2 separate regions of the Homo sapiens genome follow, and region 2 is linked to region 1. Evidence: fine-mapped expression QTL. A gene starts in region 1. The other region holds a variant in brackets. All regions are shown on one strand. Distances are from middle to middle. Region 1 holds the start of CCDC54-AS1 (CCDC54 antisense RNA 1). Region 2 has its middle 39 kb from the start of CCDC54.

Region 1 (8,822 bases):
AGGGACCAGAATATAAGAGCAAATAAAGATAAGAAAATTGGATTAAAATCCTTTTGCATGTATTTTCTCAGGATGGAGATTTTTTTTTTTTTTTTTGCAATTGAGAAGCTACAGGAAAAATAATAAGTAAAAGCAGCTATAGCTAAAGTTACTTCCCTAGCTAAATTATAACTTGTTCTATTCACTTGCTTTTGAAATTCAGACCAAGGAACATTCCATTGTCTTTATTACACAAAATAAGTTCTACAATAAAATTTTATTCTGTATTACCATCGGTTCTACGGAAAAAAAGTAAGAATGAGTCAGAATGGAGATACAGTCTAGGATCAGATGGGTACATTGAAGCAGCCATACCAAGAGGACAGTCAGAAGGCGAAGCATGATTGCCGGCCTGAGTTGGACACAGAAATCAGGACCTAGGGAGGGGGATTTGGGAAATGGATGTAGCTGTAAGAAACCACGAGAGGAAGTTGGAGCAGGAAGCAGGGATAACAGGAAGTAGAATCAGGAAGAATAGGAAAGGTAAACACTGAAACTGAGTGGGGGAAAGTGACCTTGGCTGGCAAGTGACTATATGTGTGAACCCATGGGCTGCTGCACCATCCTGAGAAAAACTGAGGTGGAAGGAGGAAGAAGGGAGAAACAGAGACAGAGAGAGAAAGAGGGAGAAGTCCACTGGTGGAAATAGTAACACTTTATCAAAAACCCAGGAAAAGAGATAGGAAAAGAGAAATAATCCTGTTTCTTTTAAAGAAGATGGCAAGAAGGAAGAGAAGACAGGCTTAGAGTGCTTCTCTAGGTTTTAGGTTTTACATTAAGTGTATTAATACATGTTTCCTGTCAAACTCTGCTCTTCCCTTGAATGACAGGCTTCACAGTAAGTTATCCTTGTCCTTTAAGACTCTTATAAACTATATAATTCACAGCTCTTCAACTTTCTAAAAGTACATTAACATTTACAGGGACCATCTGAGTCTTCTATTACAAGTATGTGTGTGTGGGTGCTTATTATCACTATTGTTTTTTTTCATCTGTAGCTATAGTAACTAGAACAATAGCACTGACAATAGGTTAAAAAAATTGATCAAAGATTATAAATCTCTGGGATGTGTGTGTATAATACACACACATTTGATACCACATATACATATATGTATGCATATAGCTAAATCTACATAAGTGTGTACATACATACATTGCCATATAATATTCACACCTCATCCCTGATCAAATGATCAATAATAGAAGACCAGCCTGACAAATTATGGGGTGAGAAAAGTCAAAGTCTCAAAGGTAATGGAACATGCACTGTATGATCTGGGGAAAGGGGTTTGGTTGAATTGCAGTAATAGCAGATTTCTTATCCTCAATCAATGCACTTTGATACTTTATGAAACATCAGGGAGACTGCACAGAGGGAGAGAAGCACAGCTAAATTTGTCTTTGACTGCTAGGCCACTGCATTTCCCTGGTTATTTTCACTGATTATTACTTAAGTTGTCAGAATCCAAGGATTCAGTATGTTCTAAAAATCACAACACCCACCATCTGTAGCCCTGGAATCTGGTTCACACTCCTATAAGCTGGGTAACTTTAGGCAAGTCACTTCTGCCTCTGGATCTCAGGTTCCTCCTCAGTAGGTTGGACCAGTTTTCTGACCTCAGTCTTTTTTCTGCCTCAACATACTGGACAGCAGCTGCCCAGCCTGTTCAGTAGTAGTAGTAATAGTAGTAGTAGTGGTAGAGTTATATGGAACATTAATTGAGTACCTACTATGTGCCAGATGATGAGCTAAGTGTTTTTCCTCATTTGTTTTTCTGAAGCACATAATTTTACTTTATATTCTATTATCTCTAATTCAGAGATAAGAAAATCAACTCAGAGGATTTAAGAAATTCAGCAAGGTCACACATCTAGTGAGTAACAGCCCTCATGAATTCTGGCCTATCCAATATCTAGGTGCTTCTTCTTAGTCCCTACATTATGCTGGTCCTATTGTCATGATTCTTAAATGGGGTACAGACAACGTCATGTCCCCCAACCCATAGGTGTATCATGGTATTGGGAGGGATTACTTTGCAAATGTCTGCTGGGAGATTTTTAAAAGACCCTTGGGGGTACCCCCACTTGAATATCACTGAACTAAGTAATCTTTAAGCTTATTTTCATAGTTAAATTTTTATGAATTGGGATCCTGCTGTTGAGAAGGAAGAAAATTTCTATTGCTACCACTCTCAACAAGATCGAATCTTGCAAACTCTGTTGTGTTTTGTTGTTCTGTAACAGCCTGCATAAATTTGCAAGTCATGAGTTCCTCTTTGTCTCCTTCAATAGCTCATTGTCTTCAGAGCAGCCTCTGATCAGAAACTTCATTAAGTCAGCTCTGATTTGTCTTCTTATCATACCTCTTAGATAACATATTGAAAATGCCAGCTGGGTCGTGATGGTGCTTTTCTAATTAGGCTGCCATAGGCATAATTTCATTTATATTGCTATAACAACAAATAGTCATGTCACTGATGGCTGTGATCGAATTACAGCCTGTACATCAAGCAATTATTATCTTTATATTTGGTAAATGTAAGTTGACTAAGTGTCACTATAAATGACAGCACTATCCAAATTTAGATTTTCTGATAATCTGAAAGACATGTCACACCTTTCATCAGGAGATTGGCCGATGAGAACACCCCTTCTGAAACAACTGACGTTAGGAATAAATCTTCAGAATCAGATGATCACCTGGCCACATTTTCATGCATTCTTTTCCTATGACAGCAGATGAGAGTGGGAGAGAAAGGTAGGATCTAAAAATAGGTGGGAAAAAAATTGGTGGAATCTTTGACAAAAACAAAGATTGGAAGAGTCCTGTTGAGAGTCATTCCTGGAAGCTTGTGCAGATTGCTTAGGGCTAACATGTAACTAAGGGTAGAAAAAGGATGATCATATCATTAAATTACCTAAGGAAGCACTGCCTTCTTTTGCCTTTTTTAGCATTTTCGGAACGCATGGTGTAGTACCTTTGCTCTGCATGGGAGGAGTGGGCTGCACTAGAACATCAGTTGTTTCTTAATCCTATTGAAGCGTTTTTCTTCTTCTTGTTCTTCCCCCACCCCACCTCTGCCTCTGTCTAGGATGTGTCTCCCCAAACCCCACATCCTTGCATCTCAAGCTTTAGGTGAAAAGAATGGCATGGGAAAGGAGAAAGATGAGAGGACAAGCTCACATATCCTATCTTGGTCCCAAGAGCCCCACTAGTGCAACGTTCCTTTACCTACATGTCCCATCTGCACAACCATCGCCCTGCTCCAGTAACTCCATCTGCCACTGACATTGGAGTTTCATGTTCCTGACAAATAAAATTAGCCTCCAAATAGGTTGTATTCCAAAAAACAAATGAAGAAGCAAAACCCACAGTTTTTGCCTCTATTCCATCATCTCCAGTATCATTATCACCATTTATTGAGCCTGACTATGTGCCAAAAATTATGCTTTACATGCTTCAATTATCTCCCTTGTATGCAGCCTTCAGTCCCTCATCACCGTAAAAAATGATGTTGGCCCCACTTCAGTCCTTATTCCCTGGACTAGATTCTCAGCAGCCACATGGAGCCTTTGTCTCTTTCCTCACCCAAGAATTTCCACCTTGGCTTCCCATCCCTGGAGCACCTGTCTTGGCCCCCACTTAGTTGCTGTTCTTTGTTCCCTGTTCTCCATGGTGTCCTCCACTAGGGCCGTCAATCTATGAAATTTTCACTCCACTATCAGATAGAAGAGAGAATAAGGAGCGTGGGGGCACTGGTCCAGCTGTCAGGATTACCACTATTGCAGTTATTTTCCTGAATACACTTTAGCATGGGAATATACGAAAACTTGGCTTTAGAGTTTTATTAATGCCATTATCTCAGCTACATTGTAGTTCAGTCAGCTTTTACAGGTTGGTCAAAAATCCAACTCTAATACTATTTCTTTGTAGTACGCATTCTGAGTTTTAAAGGATTTACAAATAAAGTTTCAGAGCATAATCCACTGATATGTTAGTGACAGTCTACATTTTGAAGGTGTGTAGAAGCATTTAGAAAAAACTATATTTTTCTGTCTTGATGAATTAACCTTGAAACATTACTTTTAGGAAAGCAATGTCTTTTTCTAAATGGGACTTGATTTGTGTCCCACAAAAAAGCTAAATTAAGTTTTAAATGAAGAGTGTGGTTTTCCAATCCAAATCTAAGCAACAGACCAAAATAATTGGCAACTGGAAATAACACCATTTGAAAGTATGTTCTTTCAGGACAGGACTGATGTCTTTGCATCTCTGTTTGTTCACACCTAGCTCAGCTATTTCCTGGTATAGAGTCAAATTTCAATAAATGTTGGTGAATATTGTTTTTGAATGAACAGAATGCTGTTAGTGTCTGTGTCTACGCAAGCAAGTATTACACACTGAACTAAATTATTTATCCTAACTCAGCCTCCCTTCCCTCCAGATCCTTTTCTTTGTTGCTTATTTATACAGCGTGCAATTAAAGGTTGGCAAACGACTGTTGTAGATGATGGAATATTGGTTGAGTGCCCAGACCAGGAGGAGAGCTTCACACCCCGTCTTATTCTTATCACACTGTCTTTGGATGAGGGAGTCAAGATTTTGTTTGAAGCATTTGTATTTAGCCTGTCACTTTGTTCCCTATTTGTCTGGAGTCCTTTATGGCTGATGAAAGGAGGCAGAATCCTGAATGTGAGCTGCTTGAGGCAGGGCCCATGTCCTGTTCATCTTCATGCCTTCCATTGACATTTAGCCTATGGAGGGAAGGAAATGACCACCATATGCTAAGCACCTACGAAATCAGGCATTATTCTTGGCAGATTATACACATGATTTCATTTAATTAACACAAGAGTCTCATGACATAAATTGTTCTCAGTTCGGAGTTGAGAAAACTGAATTCAAGTTTTAAGGACTGCCAAAATCACATAGTTATGAGGGTCATGATTGTACACCCAACTAGCATAGTGCCTGATACATAATATAAATGTTTAGTAAATAGTCATTCTAAAATCTGTTCTTCTTTGAATGTCTTTGCTCTTTTTACCACCGAGTGTTTCCTCCCCAATAGATGTGTTTAATAGCAAAAACAATGATTTGAGATGTTTTGGTGAATGCACAATGACTTTCATGTTTGACTGATATACATTATAGACATTCGTCTAATTATATTTATATACATTTTTTTGTAGACACACAAGTGGAGAAGATAAATAGTAATTTGGAACCAAAACTCAGGACGTCCCAGGAGAGGCTAGATTAGGAATTCTTTGATTTGGGATCACGAAAATGAAGTATCCATATTTTAACAGAATGATTAGTGGCAGAGGAATCATCTAAGAAAACTGAGAAGACTCTGCCAGAGTGATGGGAAGAAAACTAGATGAGAAAGCACCATTCTGGAAGACATGCTCCCATGAACCATGGAGAGAAGAGGAGAGGGAAGGTGAGGACAGGGAGGGTGGGCCTCTCATTAAAAAAGATGATGGGAAATTGGCAGGAGACGAGGGGAACACAAGGACAAGGGAACCAGGTGAGTATTTTTGTAAGCGGAGTACAAAGAACTGAGAGGTGGTGATTAAGATGGAGGGGAAAGGGGGAGTAATTGATGAAGACTCTGCAAGGCACTGGTGGAGGAATGTGGGTTAGAGAAACGCCACTTCTCCAAGCCAGGAGGGATGGAGGTGGGCTGGTGAGAGGCAGGTGAACTTGCAAACCAGGACTGGGGAAAAGTTATTTGCTCACATGCTGAGTTATAAGATGATTTATAATTTTAACAAGTCATGTGAGATCTTGTCTAGGTGACAATAAATAATTGACTCAGAAGTAAAATCCTCCCTTTGCTCACAGGGAACTCAATTCATTAACAGGACAAACAGAATCCTCTCTAGGGAAAGTGCGAGACCTTGCGAAAATCACGTAGAGTCACTTTCTCCCCCTCTAACATTCTTATGTAGGTAAAGAAAACAGGTTGAAATGAGCATGGTGGGAATCTCTGAAGAGAAAAATTAGATCCATAAAAGGGTTGAAATAATAGCCTGTCTGTACTTTATGTTGTATAATGCCCGGTGGCTTTCACATCCCACGTTCCTTACTATCCCCCCGCCCTCTGCTCCTGTTTTTCCCTCTGTCAGCTGCATTGTCCTCTCCACCTCCTCCTCACTTTACTTCCTTAGCACAAGGCTCATCAAGCTTGTTTCTTCTCTGACACCAGCAATACTTGCAGTATTGCTATTTGCTGCCCATCCCCATTTATCATGTCTCAGAGTTCTTTGTGTACATTTTTTATTTATGCCATTTAATGTTCTATATTTACAGGACATGGAATGTCTACCTTTTCTTGTATCCTCCATGATCCCTTATTATTAGTGAACACTGAAAAAATATTTACTAAGTTCATATAATGATTATATTTTTACAGCTGACAGAAAAACCTCATTGAAATTAAATAATATAATTTGTAAGAGTAAAATTTAGGACTTAGGTTGAGAACCTTGGTCTTTTGATCCTCAAGCGTGTGCCTGTAAACTGCGTGCCTCTCTAGAAACATTAAGGGCTGTGTAAGGGACATGTGAGGGGGAAAAATGAAAGTCAGTGCTGATATACAGAGGCTCAGACGACCCAGGCTTATACCAGCTGGGTCACTTTTTTCTCTTCCAGAAGTTATTTGTGATGTCATTTGCCTGTGTCATGGCCTGCCTTCCCTAGATATTGTCCTAATGTGAGCATCACACCTAAGGTACTGAAGTAGAGTTCTGGCTGTTCCTTACGGACATCTCTGGTGGTAAGTAAATACATAGAGATTGCTAGTGCCTTTAACAGAACAATACATTGTAAGCACAGTTATCTCATTTTTAAACAAACTCATTTAATAAATACCTTTGCTTTTATTAGGTATGTTGCATATTGACATATTTTATTTTTTAACTTTTATTTTAGTTTTGGGGTACATGCGCAGGTTTGTTTTATAGGTAAACTCAAGTCGTTAGTACCCAGGTACTAAGCCTAATACTCAATAGTTATTTTTTTCTGCTTCTCTCCCTCCTCCCAACCTTCACTTTCAAGTAGGCACCAGTATCAGTTGTTCCCTTCTTTGTGTCCATGAGCTCCCATCTTTTAGCTTCCACTTGTGAGAACATGTGGTAGTTGGTTTTCTGTTCCTGCATTAGTTTGCTAAGGATAATGGCCTTCAGCTCCAGCCACATTCCTGGAAAAGACATGATCTCATCTATTTTTGTGGCTGTCTATAGTATTCCATGGTGTATATGTACCATATTTTCTTTATCTAATCTGTAATTGATGGGCATTTAGGTTGATTCCCTGCATTTTGACATATTCTAAAAGTTATTATGTACATATCTATAAATTTGTAAAGAAGGATCAAATAGAATATATTTGTCAATGAAAAAATAATGTGTTATATAATTACTCCCAGATTGGCGTCAGACGAAGCTGTGTCTTAATTTTTGCTGTGCCCACCTTTAGGTCCTTTGTCCTCTTTCATTTGTTCTCAGCTAGCTACCAAAACCCCCCTTTCAAAGTATTGACTGCAAATAATTAAGTGTAGTACATTTGCCAGGAATATTTGTGGTTTAATATATGACCACAAAGGAAGGTAGCGTTCATTCACTGAGTTAAGTGGTGAAGGAAACATTGTTTTTCAGTTATTCTGCATGATATTCAGAAATTACAATGACAACCACCTGTTATATCTAAAAATGAAGCTCTTCTTGGCTATATGCTTTAAACAAACAAACAAAGAAAAACCTATCATATAAGAGTTTATGGTATTATAGTGGTAAGATTTAACTTAGTTCACAAACCCCTTCTTAGATCTTCCCTTTTCCCCTGCATCAAACCTATAGGACATGGTATTTTTCTCCTTTCATGAAAATGTAAAAATTACCCAGTATCATATTGTCTTTCTCCTCTTATCTAATTGTTTCATAGAAAAGAAGCTGAAGTTGAAAGAAAAAGCCAATATTTTGAATATGTTCCTTGCAATAACTTAGCCTTTCAATCCCTTTCATTTTTATACTGCTAACTTTAGTAGCCTTGACAATGGGTATCCTTTTCACTCTATACTACCTAAAGTCTGACCGGGCGTGGTGGTTCATGCCTGTAATCCCAGCTCTTTGGCAGGTCGAGGTGGGTGGCTCGCTTGAGGCCAGGTGTTTGAGACCAGCCTGGTCAACATGGTGAAACTCTGTCTCTACTAAAAATACAAAAATTAGCTGGGTGTGGTAGCGTGCGCCTGTAATTCCAGCTACTCAGGAGGCCGAGGTAGGAGAATCACTTGAACCCGGGAGGTGGAGGTTGCAGTGACCCGAGATTGCACCACTACACTCCAGCTGGGTGACAGAGTGAGACTCCATTTCAAAAATAAATAACAAATAAAATGAAGTCTTGTCAGTAGTGTATGTTTCTGGTATCACAAACCGTATCCACAAAGGCCACGAGGACAAAGTGTATAGAAAACTGACATGGAGGCCACCAAACATACTACACATTGCCCTGGACTCCTTCATTCTTTGTTTCCAATTATCTATGAAAATGGACCCAGGATGAGTCCTCATGAATTGCCTTTGAGAAAACAAGAACATTGAGAGAAAACGAATTACAACAGTTCAATTAGATCATGTGCCTTAACTTACTGTAGACATAGAGAAACTCTGCAGATAGTGGGCCCAGAGTGAGCAAACTACCGAAGAATTCACAGCCACCACACCAATGTGTGAATACTTGGAGCCTCCAGGTTACATTTATTTTGTGCCAAGCA
Region 2 (8,822 bases), 45 kb after region 1:
ATAGTATTTCATTGTATGAGGATCACATTTAGTTTATCCATTCTCAGGTTGATGGATGTTGGATTGTTTACAATTTCAGAATATTATGAATAATGCTGCTAGGAACATTTGGGTACAAATCTTTGTGTGGACATACTTCCAGGTCTTGTGGGTGGATACCTCAGAGTGGAATTCCTGGTCGTATTGTTACCGGTGGCAGGTGTCCTGGTTCTTGGCATTTTGAACAAAGAATTGGACAAAACACACAAACAAAGCAAGGAAAGAATGAAGTAACAAAAACAGAGATTTATTGAAAACAAAAGCACACTCCACAGGGTGGGAGCCGGCTTGAGCAAGCGGCTCAAGAGCACTGGTTAGAGAATTTTCTAGGGTTTAAATACCCTTTAGAGATTTCCCATTGGTTACTTGGTGTATGCCCTATGTAAATGAAGAGGATGAAGTGAAGTTACAAAGTTATTTACTTGGTGTACGTCCTATGCAAATGAAGAGGATGTTTGCTACCGTAGCTGAAGTGAAGTTACAAAGCTCTTTATTAACACTTGGGTTTAGAAGGTTGGGGTTTTTCAGTTTAATTTAGTTCTAGGAATTCTTTAGGTTCCCTGTATGCAGAGCTTATTTCCTGCCTCAATATCACTTCTTATCATTGCTATTGATTACCTGAAATAATCAATACATTTACAAAATATTACTTCAAATGTACAATTTGGCTGAGAAAAATTTTTTATACATCACTTTACTCAGATCATGTCAGACAATTACAAAAGATTTTCTTACTGTACAATACTGGTAGATTCATCAGTTTTCAGAGAATTTTATTGACTTTGTCATTCTCTGAATAATAATTGGTCCTTTACTTTCTGTTCATAGCTGCAATTCCAAAATAGACTCTTATTTGACAGAGGCACTTTATCAATCATTTTGCTTGCTTTGTCCCCAGTCACTGCTTTTGCATTTATTTGCCTGTAGGATTATATGTGTTTCATCAATTATTTTACAACAACATAGGGAAGGTTTCTCCAGCTTTTGTATTCTTATCCGTATTACACACATGTTAGTTCCTAGGATGCCTGAATGTTCTTCTACTTTGCCTCAGAAATTTTAATAAGTTTCTCATAATGTTCTTTGTATGTGTCAAATGACACCAGTATTTTGAGACACAACCTACAATGAAATAGGTTTACTCTCAGCTGGCAAGTAAATTGCAAATTTCAAACTATTTTTGTCATTTTTGTGTAATGTTATTTTTGTTGAAGCTTGCATTTTATAACACAAACAGGTGATTCAGTCATTAATTAAGTTTTGCTATGATCAACACTAGTGCTCATATTTTTATAAATCTCTTCTATTATGTCCAGAAATTTTTTAAACCTCTTAATCATAATAGAATCAATTTTTTTTTTTTTTAAAAAAAAGGGTTCTTCAAAACCACAATGCGATACCACCTCACACCAATCAGAATGGCTATTATTAAAAAGTCAAAAAATAACAAATGCTGACAAGGTTGCAGAGAAAAAGGAATGCTTATACACTGTTGGTGGGACTGTAAATTAATTCAACCATTGTAAAAGACAGTGTGACAATTCATCAAAGGCCCAAAAACAGAAATACCATTTCACCTAGCAATCCCATTAGAAGGCATACACCCAAAGAAATATAAATCGTTCTGTTGTAAAGACACATGCACGTGTATGTTCACTGCAGCACTATTCACAATAGCAAAGACATAGAATCAACTTAAGTGCTGATCGGTGGTAGACTGGATAAAGAAAATGTGGTATATATACACCATAGAATACCATGCAGCCATAAAAAAGAACAATTGTGTCCTTTGCAGGAATGTGGTTGGAGCTGGAGGCCATTATCCTTAGCAAACTAACACAGGAACAGAAAACCAAACACCACATATTCTCACTTATAGGTAGGAGCTAAATGACGAGAATACATCGACACATAGAGGAGAACAACAACACTGGGGCCTATAGGAGGGTGGAGGGTGAAGGGTGGGAGGAGAGAAAGGATCAGGAAAAATAACTAATGTCTTAATACCTGGGTTGCAAAATAATCTGTACAACAAACCCCCCATGACACAAGTTTACCTATATAACAAACTTGCATGTGTATCCTTGAACTTAAAAGTTAAATTAAAAAAAGAGTCCAACCTGGATTATAGTTCATGATAATGTATATGTACATTTGACTTCTAGAAGTGCTGAATTGATGTATCACTAAGAAATACATGATGATAAGACAGAAAATTCAATATTATGAGAAACTATAGTGGTCATTTGTATATTCACAGTTTCCTTACATCCAAGGCAGACATTTTAATTATTGACACTTCGATCCATTCATAGGTCAGCATAAGTAACCAGACTCAGTCCATGGCATTACATATATTGGCATTACAGCAAGTAATACCATTTATAAATGATATAACCTTGCCAGTATCTGTTATTTTAAATTTTTAATAGTAGCCATTCTGACTGGTATCACATTGTGGTTTTGAAGGACTCTTTTTTAAAAAAAAATAATCCTTCTTTTTTTTTTTGAGACAGAGTCTTGCTCTGTCCTCTAGGCTGGAGTGCACTGGCACAATCTCGGCTCACTACATCCTCTGCAATTCTCCTACCTCAGCCTCCCGAGTAGTTGGGATTACAGACGCCTGCCACCATGCCTGGCTAATGTTTTTCATTTTTAAAATTTTTTTTTATTTTTTATTTTAATTTTTAATTTTTTTAATTTTTTATTTTATTTTATTTTATTATTATTATACTTTAAGTTTTAGGGTACATGTGCACAATGTGCAGGTTAGTTACATATGTATACATGTGCCATGCTGGTGTGCTACACCCATTAACTCATCATTTAGCATTAGGTATATCTCCTAATGCTATCCCTCCCCCCTCCCCCCAACCCACAACAGTCCCCAGAGTGTCATGTTCCCCTTCCTGTGTCCATGTGTTCTCATTGTTCAATTCCCACTTATGAGTGAGAATATGCGGTGTTTGGTTTTTTGTTCTTGCGATAGTATACTGAGAATGATGATTTCCAGTTTCATCCATGTCCCTACAAAGGACATGAACTCATCCTTTTTTATGGCTGCATAGTATTCCATGGTGTATATGTGCCACATTTTCTTAATCCACTCTATCATTGTTGGACATTTGGGTTGGTTCCAAGTCTCTGCTATTGTGAATAATGCCGCAATAAACATACATGTGCATGTGTCTTTACAGCAGCATGATTTATAGTCCTTTGGGTATATACCCAGTAATGGGATGGCTGGGTCAAATGGTGTTTCTAGTTCTAGATCCCTGAGGAATCACCACACTGACTTCCACAATGGTTGAACTAGTTTACAGTCCCACCAACAGTGTAAAAGTGTTCCTATTTCTCCACATCCTCTCCAGCACCTGTTGTTTCCTGACTTTTTAATGATTGCCATTCTAACTGATGTGAGATGGTATCTCATTGTGGTTTTGATTTGCATTTCTCTGATGGCCAGTGATGGTGAGCATTTTTTCATGTGTTTTTTGGCTGCATTAATGTCTTCTTTTGAGAAGTGTCTGTTCATGTCCTTCGCCCACTTTTTGATGGGGTTGTTTGTTTTTTTCTTGTAAATTTGTTTGAGTTCATTGTAGATTCTGGATATTAGACCTTTGTCAGATGAGTAGGTTGTGAAAATTTTCTCCCATTTTGTAGGTTGCCTGTTCACTCTGATGGTAGTTTCTTTTGCTGTGCAGAAGCTCTTTAGTTTAATTAGATCCCATTTGTCAATTTTGGCTTTTGTTGCCATTGCTTTTGGTGTTTTAGACATGAAGTCCTTGCCCATGCCTATGTCCTGAATGGTATTGCCTAGGTTTTCTTCTAGGGTTTTTATGGTTTTAGGTCTAACGTTTAAGTCTTTAATCCATCTTGAATTAATTTTTGTATAAGGTATAAGGAAGGGATCCAGTTTTAGCTTTCTACATATGTCTAGCCAGTTTTCCCAGCACCATTTATTAAATAGGGAGTCCTTTCCTCATTGCTTATTTTTCTCAGGTTTGTCAAAGATCAGATAGTTGTAGATATGTGGCGTTATTTCTGAGGGCTCTGTTCTGTTCCATTGATCTATATCTCTGTTTTGGTACCAGTACCATGCTGTTTTGGTTACTGTAGCCTTGTAGTATACTTTGAAGTCAGGTAGCATGATGCCTCCAGCTTTGTTCTTTTGGCTTAGGATTGACTTGGCGATGCGGGCTCTTTTTTGGTTGCATATGAACTTTAAAGTAGTTTTTTCCAATTCTGTGAAGAAAGTCTTTTGTAGCTTGATGGGGATGGCATTGAATCTATAAACTACCTTGGGCAGTATGGCCATTTCCACGATATTGATTCTTCGTACCCATGAGCATGGAATGTTCTTCCATTTGTTTGTATCCTCTTTTATTTCATTAAGCAGTGGTTTGTAGTTCTCCCTGAAGAGGTCCTTCATGTCCCTTGTAAGTTGGATTCCTAGGTATTTTATTCTCTTTGAAGCAATTGTGAATGGGAGTTCACTCATGATTTGGCTCTCTGTTTGTCTGTTATTGGTGTATAAGAATGCTTGTGATTTTTGTACGTTGATTTTGTATCCTGAGACTTTGCTGAAGTTGCTTATCAGCTTAAGGAGATTTTGGGCTGAGACAATGGGGTTTTCTAGATATACAATCATGTCATCTGCAAACAGGGACAATTTGACTTCCTCTTTTCCTAATTGAATACCCTTTATTTCCTTCTCCTGCCTAATTGCCCTGGCCAGAATTTCCAACACTATGTTGAATAGGAATGGTGAGAGAGGGCATCCCTGTCTTGTGCCAGTTTTCAAAGGGAATGCTTCCAGTTTTTGCCCATTCAGTATGATATTGGCTGGGGGTTTGTCATAAATAGCTCTTATTATTTTGAGATACGTCCCATCAATACCTAATTTATTGACAGTTTTTAGCATGAAGGGTTGTTGAATTTTGTCAAAGGCCTTTTCTGCATCTATTGAGATAATCATGTGGTTTTTGTCTTTGGTTCTGTTTATATGCTGGATTACATTTATTGATTTGCGTATATTGAACCAGCCTTGCATCCCAGGGATGAAGCCCACTTGATCATGGTGGATAAACTTTTTGATGTGCTGCTGGATTCGGTTTGCCAGTATTTTATTGAGGATTTTTGCATCAATGTTCATCAAGGATATTGGTCTAAAATTCTCTTTTTTGGTTGTGTCTCTGCCCAGCTTTGGTATCAGGATGATGCTGGCTTCATAAAATGAGTTAGGGAGGATTCCGTCTTTTTCTATTGATGGGAATAGTTTCAGAAGGAATGGTACCAATTCCTCCTTGTACCTCTGGTAGAATTCGGCTGTGAATCCATCTGGTCCTGGACTTTTTTTGGTTGGTAAGCTATTGATTATTGCCACAATTTCAGAGCCTGTTATTGGTGTATTCAGAGATTCAACTTCTTCCTGGTTTAGTCTTGGGAGGGTGTATGTGTC[G/A]AGGAATTTATCCATTTCTTCTAGATTTTCTAGTTTATTTGTGTAGAGGTGTTTGTAGTATTCTCTGATGGTAGTTTGTATTTCTGTGGGATCGGTGGTGATATCCCCTTTATCATTTTTTATTGTGTCTATTTGTTTCTTCTCTCTTTTCTTCTTTATTAGTCTTGCTAGCAGTCTATCAATTTTGTTGATCCTTTCAGAAAACCAGCTCCTGGATTCATTAATTTTTTGAAGGGTTTTTTGTGTCTCTATTTCCTTCAGTTCTGCTCTGATTTTAGTTATTTCTTGCCTTCTGCTAGCTTTTGAATGTGTTTGCTCTTGCTTTTCTAGTTCTTTTAATTGTGATGTTAGGGTGTCAATTTTGGATCTTTCCTGCTTTCTCTTGTAGGCATTTAGTACTATAAATTTCCCTCTACACACTGCTTTGAATGTGTCCCAGAGATTCTGGTATGTTGTGTCTTTGTTCTCGTTGGTTTCAAAGAACATGTTTATTTCTGCCTTCATTTCGTTATGTACCCAGTAGTCATTCAGGAGCAGGTTGTTCAGTTTCCATGTAGTTGAGCGGTTTTGAGTGAGTTTCTTAATCCTGAGTTCTACTTTGATTGCACTGTGGTCTGAGAGACAGTTTGTTATACTTTCTGTTCTTTTACATTTGCTGAGGAGAGCTTTACTTCCAACTATGTGGTCAATTTTGGAATAGGTGTGGTGCGGTGCTGAAAAAAATGTGTATTCTGTTGATTTGGGGTGGAGAGTTCTGTAGATGTGTATTAGGTCTGCGTGGTGCAGAGCTGAGTTCAATTCCTGGGTATTCTTGTTAACTTTCTGTCCTGTTGATCTGTCTAATGTTGACAGTGGGGTGTTAAAGTCTCCCATTATTATTGTGTGGGAGTCTAAGTCTCTTTGTAGGTCACTCGGGACTTGCTTTATGAAGCTAGGTGCTCCTGTATTTGGTGCATATATATTTAGGATAGTTAGCTCTTCTTGTTGAATTGATCCCTTTACCATTATGTAATGGCCTTCTTTGTCTCTTTTGATCTTTGCTGGTTTAAAGTCTGTTTTATCAGAGACTAGGATTGCAACCCCTGCCTTTTTTTGTTTTCCACTTGCTTGGTAGATCTTCCTCCATCCTTTTATTTTGAGCCTATGTGTGTCTCTGCACGTGAGATGGGTTTCCTGAATACAGCACACTGATGGGTCTTGACTCCATCCAATTTGCCAGTCTGTGTCTTTTAATGGGAGCATTTAGTCCATTTACGTTTACAGTTAATATTGTTATGTGTGAATTTGATCCTGTCATTTTGATATTAGCTGGTTATTTTGCTCATTAGTTGATGCAGTTTCTTCTTAGCTGCTATGGTCTTTACAATTTGGCATGATTTTGCAGCGGCTGGTACTGGTTGTTCCTTTCCATGTTTAGCGCTTCCTTCAGGAGGTCTTTTAGGGCAGGCCTGGTGGTGACAAAATCTCTCAGCATTTGCTTGTCTGTAAAGTATTTTATTTCTCCTTCACTTATGAAGCTTAGTTTGGCCAGATATGAAATTCTGGGTTGAAAATTCTTTTCTTTAAGAATGTTGAATATTGGCCCCCACTCTCTTCTGGCTTGTAGAGTTTCTGCCGAGAGATCCGCTGTTAGTCTGAGGGGCTTCCCTTTGTGGGTAACCCGACCTTTCTCTCTGGCTGCCCTTAACATTTTTTCCTTCATTTCAACTTTGGTGAATCTGACAATTATGTGTCTTGGAGTTGCTCTTCTCGAGGTGTATCTTTGTGGCGTTCTCTGTATTTCCTGAATCTGAATGTTGGCCTGCCTTGCTAGATTGGGGAAGTTCTCCTGGATAATATCCTGCAGAGTGTTTTCCCACTTGGTTCCATTCTCCCCGTCACTTTCAGGTACACCAATCAGACATAGATTTGGTCTTTTCACATAGTCCTATATTTCTTGGAGGCTTTGTTCATTTCTTTTTATTCTTTTTTCTCTAAACTTCCCTTCTCACTTCATTTCATTCATTTCATCTTCCATCACTGATACCCTTTCTTCCAGTCGATCGCATCGGCTCCTGAGCTTTCAGCTCCATCAGCTCCTTTAAGCACTTCTCTGTATTGGTTATTCTAGTTATACATTCTTCTCAATTTTTTTCAAAGTTTTTAACTTCATTGCCTTTGGTTTGAATTTCCTCCTGTAGCTCGGAGTAGTTTGATCGTCTGAAGCCGTCTTTTCTCAACTTGACAAAGTCCTTCTCCATCCAGCTTTGTTCCGTTGCTGGTGAGGAACTGCCTTCCTTTGGAGGAGGAGAGGCACTCTGCTTTTTAGAGTTTCCAGTTTTTCTGCTCTGTTTTTTCCCCATCTTTGTGGTTTTATCTACTTTTGGTCTTTGATGATGGTGATGTACAGATGGGTTTTTGGTGTGGATGTCCTTTCTGTTGGTTAGTTTTCCTTCTAACAGACAGGACCCTCAGCTGCAGGTCTGTTGGAGTTTGCTAGAAGTCCACTCCAGACGCTGTTTGCCTGGGTAACAGCAGCGTTGGCTGCACAACAGCGGATTTTCATGAACCGCGAATGCTGCTGTCTGATAGGTCCTCTGGAAGTTTTGTCTCAGAGGAGTACCCGGCCGTGTGAGGTGTCAGTCTGCCCCTAGTGGGGGGTGCCTCCCAGTTAGGCTGCTCAGGGGTCAGGGGTCAGGGACCCACTTGAGGAGGCAGTCTGCCCCTTCTCAGATCTCCAGTTGTGTGCTGGGAGAACCACTTCTCTCTTCAAAGCTGTCAGACAGGGACATTTAAGTCTGCAGAGGTTACTGCTGTCTTTTTGTTTGTCTGTGCCCTGCCCCCGGAGGTGGAGCCTACAGAGGCAGGCAGGCCTCCTTGAGCTGTGGTGGGCTCCACCCAGTTCGAGCTTCTCAGCTGCTTTGTTTACCTAAGCAAGCCTGGGCAATGGCGGGCGCCCCTCCCCCAGCCTCATTGCCGCCTTGCAGTTTCATCTCAGACTGCTGTGCTAGCAATGAACAAGACTCCGTGGGCGTAGGACCCTCCGAGCCAGGTGCGGGATATAATCTCCTGGTCCACTGTTTTTTAAGCCCGTCGGAAAAGCGCAGTATTAGGGTGGGAGTGACCCGATTTTCCAGGTGCCATCTGTCACCCCTTTCTTTGACTAGGAAAGGGAACTCCCTGACCCCTTGCGCTTCCTGAGTGAGGCAATGCCTCGTCCTGCTTCAGCTCGCACACAGTGTGCTGCACCCACTGTCCTGCGTCCACTGTCTGGCACTCCCTAGTGAGATGAACCCGGTACCTCAGATGGAAATGCAGAAATCACTTGTCTTCTGTGTCACTC

The links. PIP is the estimated chance that this variant, and not a neighbour inherited with it, causes the effect.
Region 2: its variant is fine-mapped to the expression of CCDC54-AS1 in aorta (GTEx, PIP above 0.99).

What each region holds. Positions count from the first base shown.
Region 1 is chr3:107,378,590-107,387,411 of GRCh38, reverse strand. CCDC54-AS1 (CCDC54 antisense RNA 1) reads left to right here and starts at 5,253. Exons shown (of 2, transcript NR_126332.1): 1 at 5,253-5,489; 2 at 6,704-6,936. It overlaps CCDC54 (coiled-coil domain containing 54), which reads right to left. Exons shown (of 1, transcript NM_032600.3): 1 at 8,777-8,822.
Region 2 is chr3:107,333,801-107,342,622 of GRCh38, reverse strand. No RefSeq gene overlaps it. Among named protein-coding and RNA genes, the nearest start is that of CCDC54, 39 kb to the left of the region's middle. The variant G/A (reference allele first, on the strand shown) is at 5,501.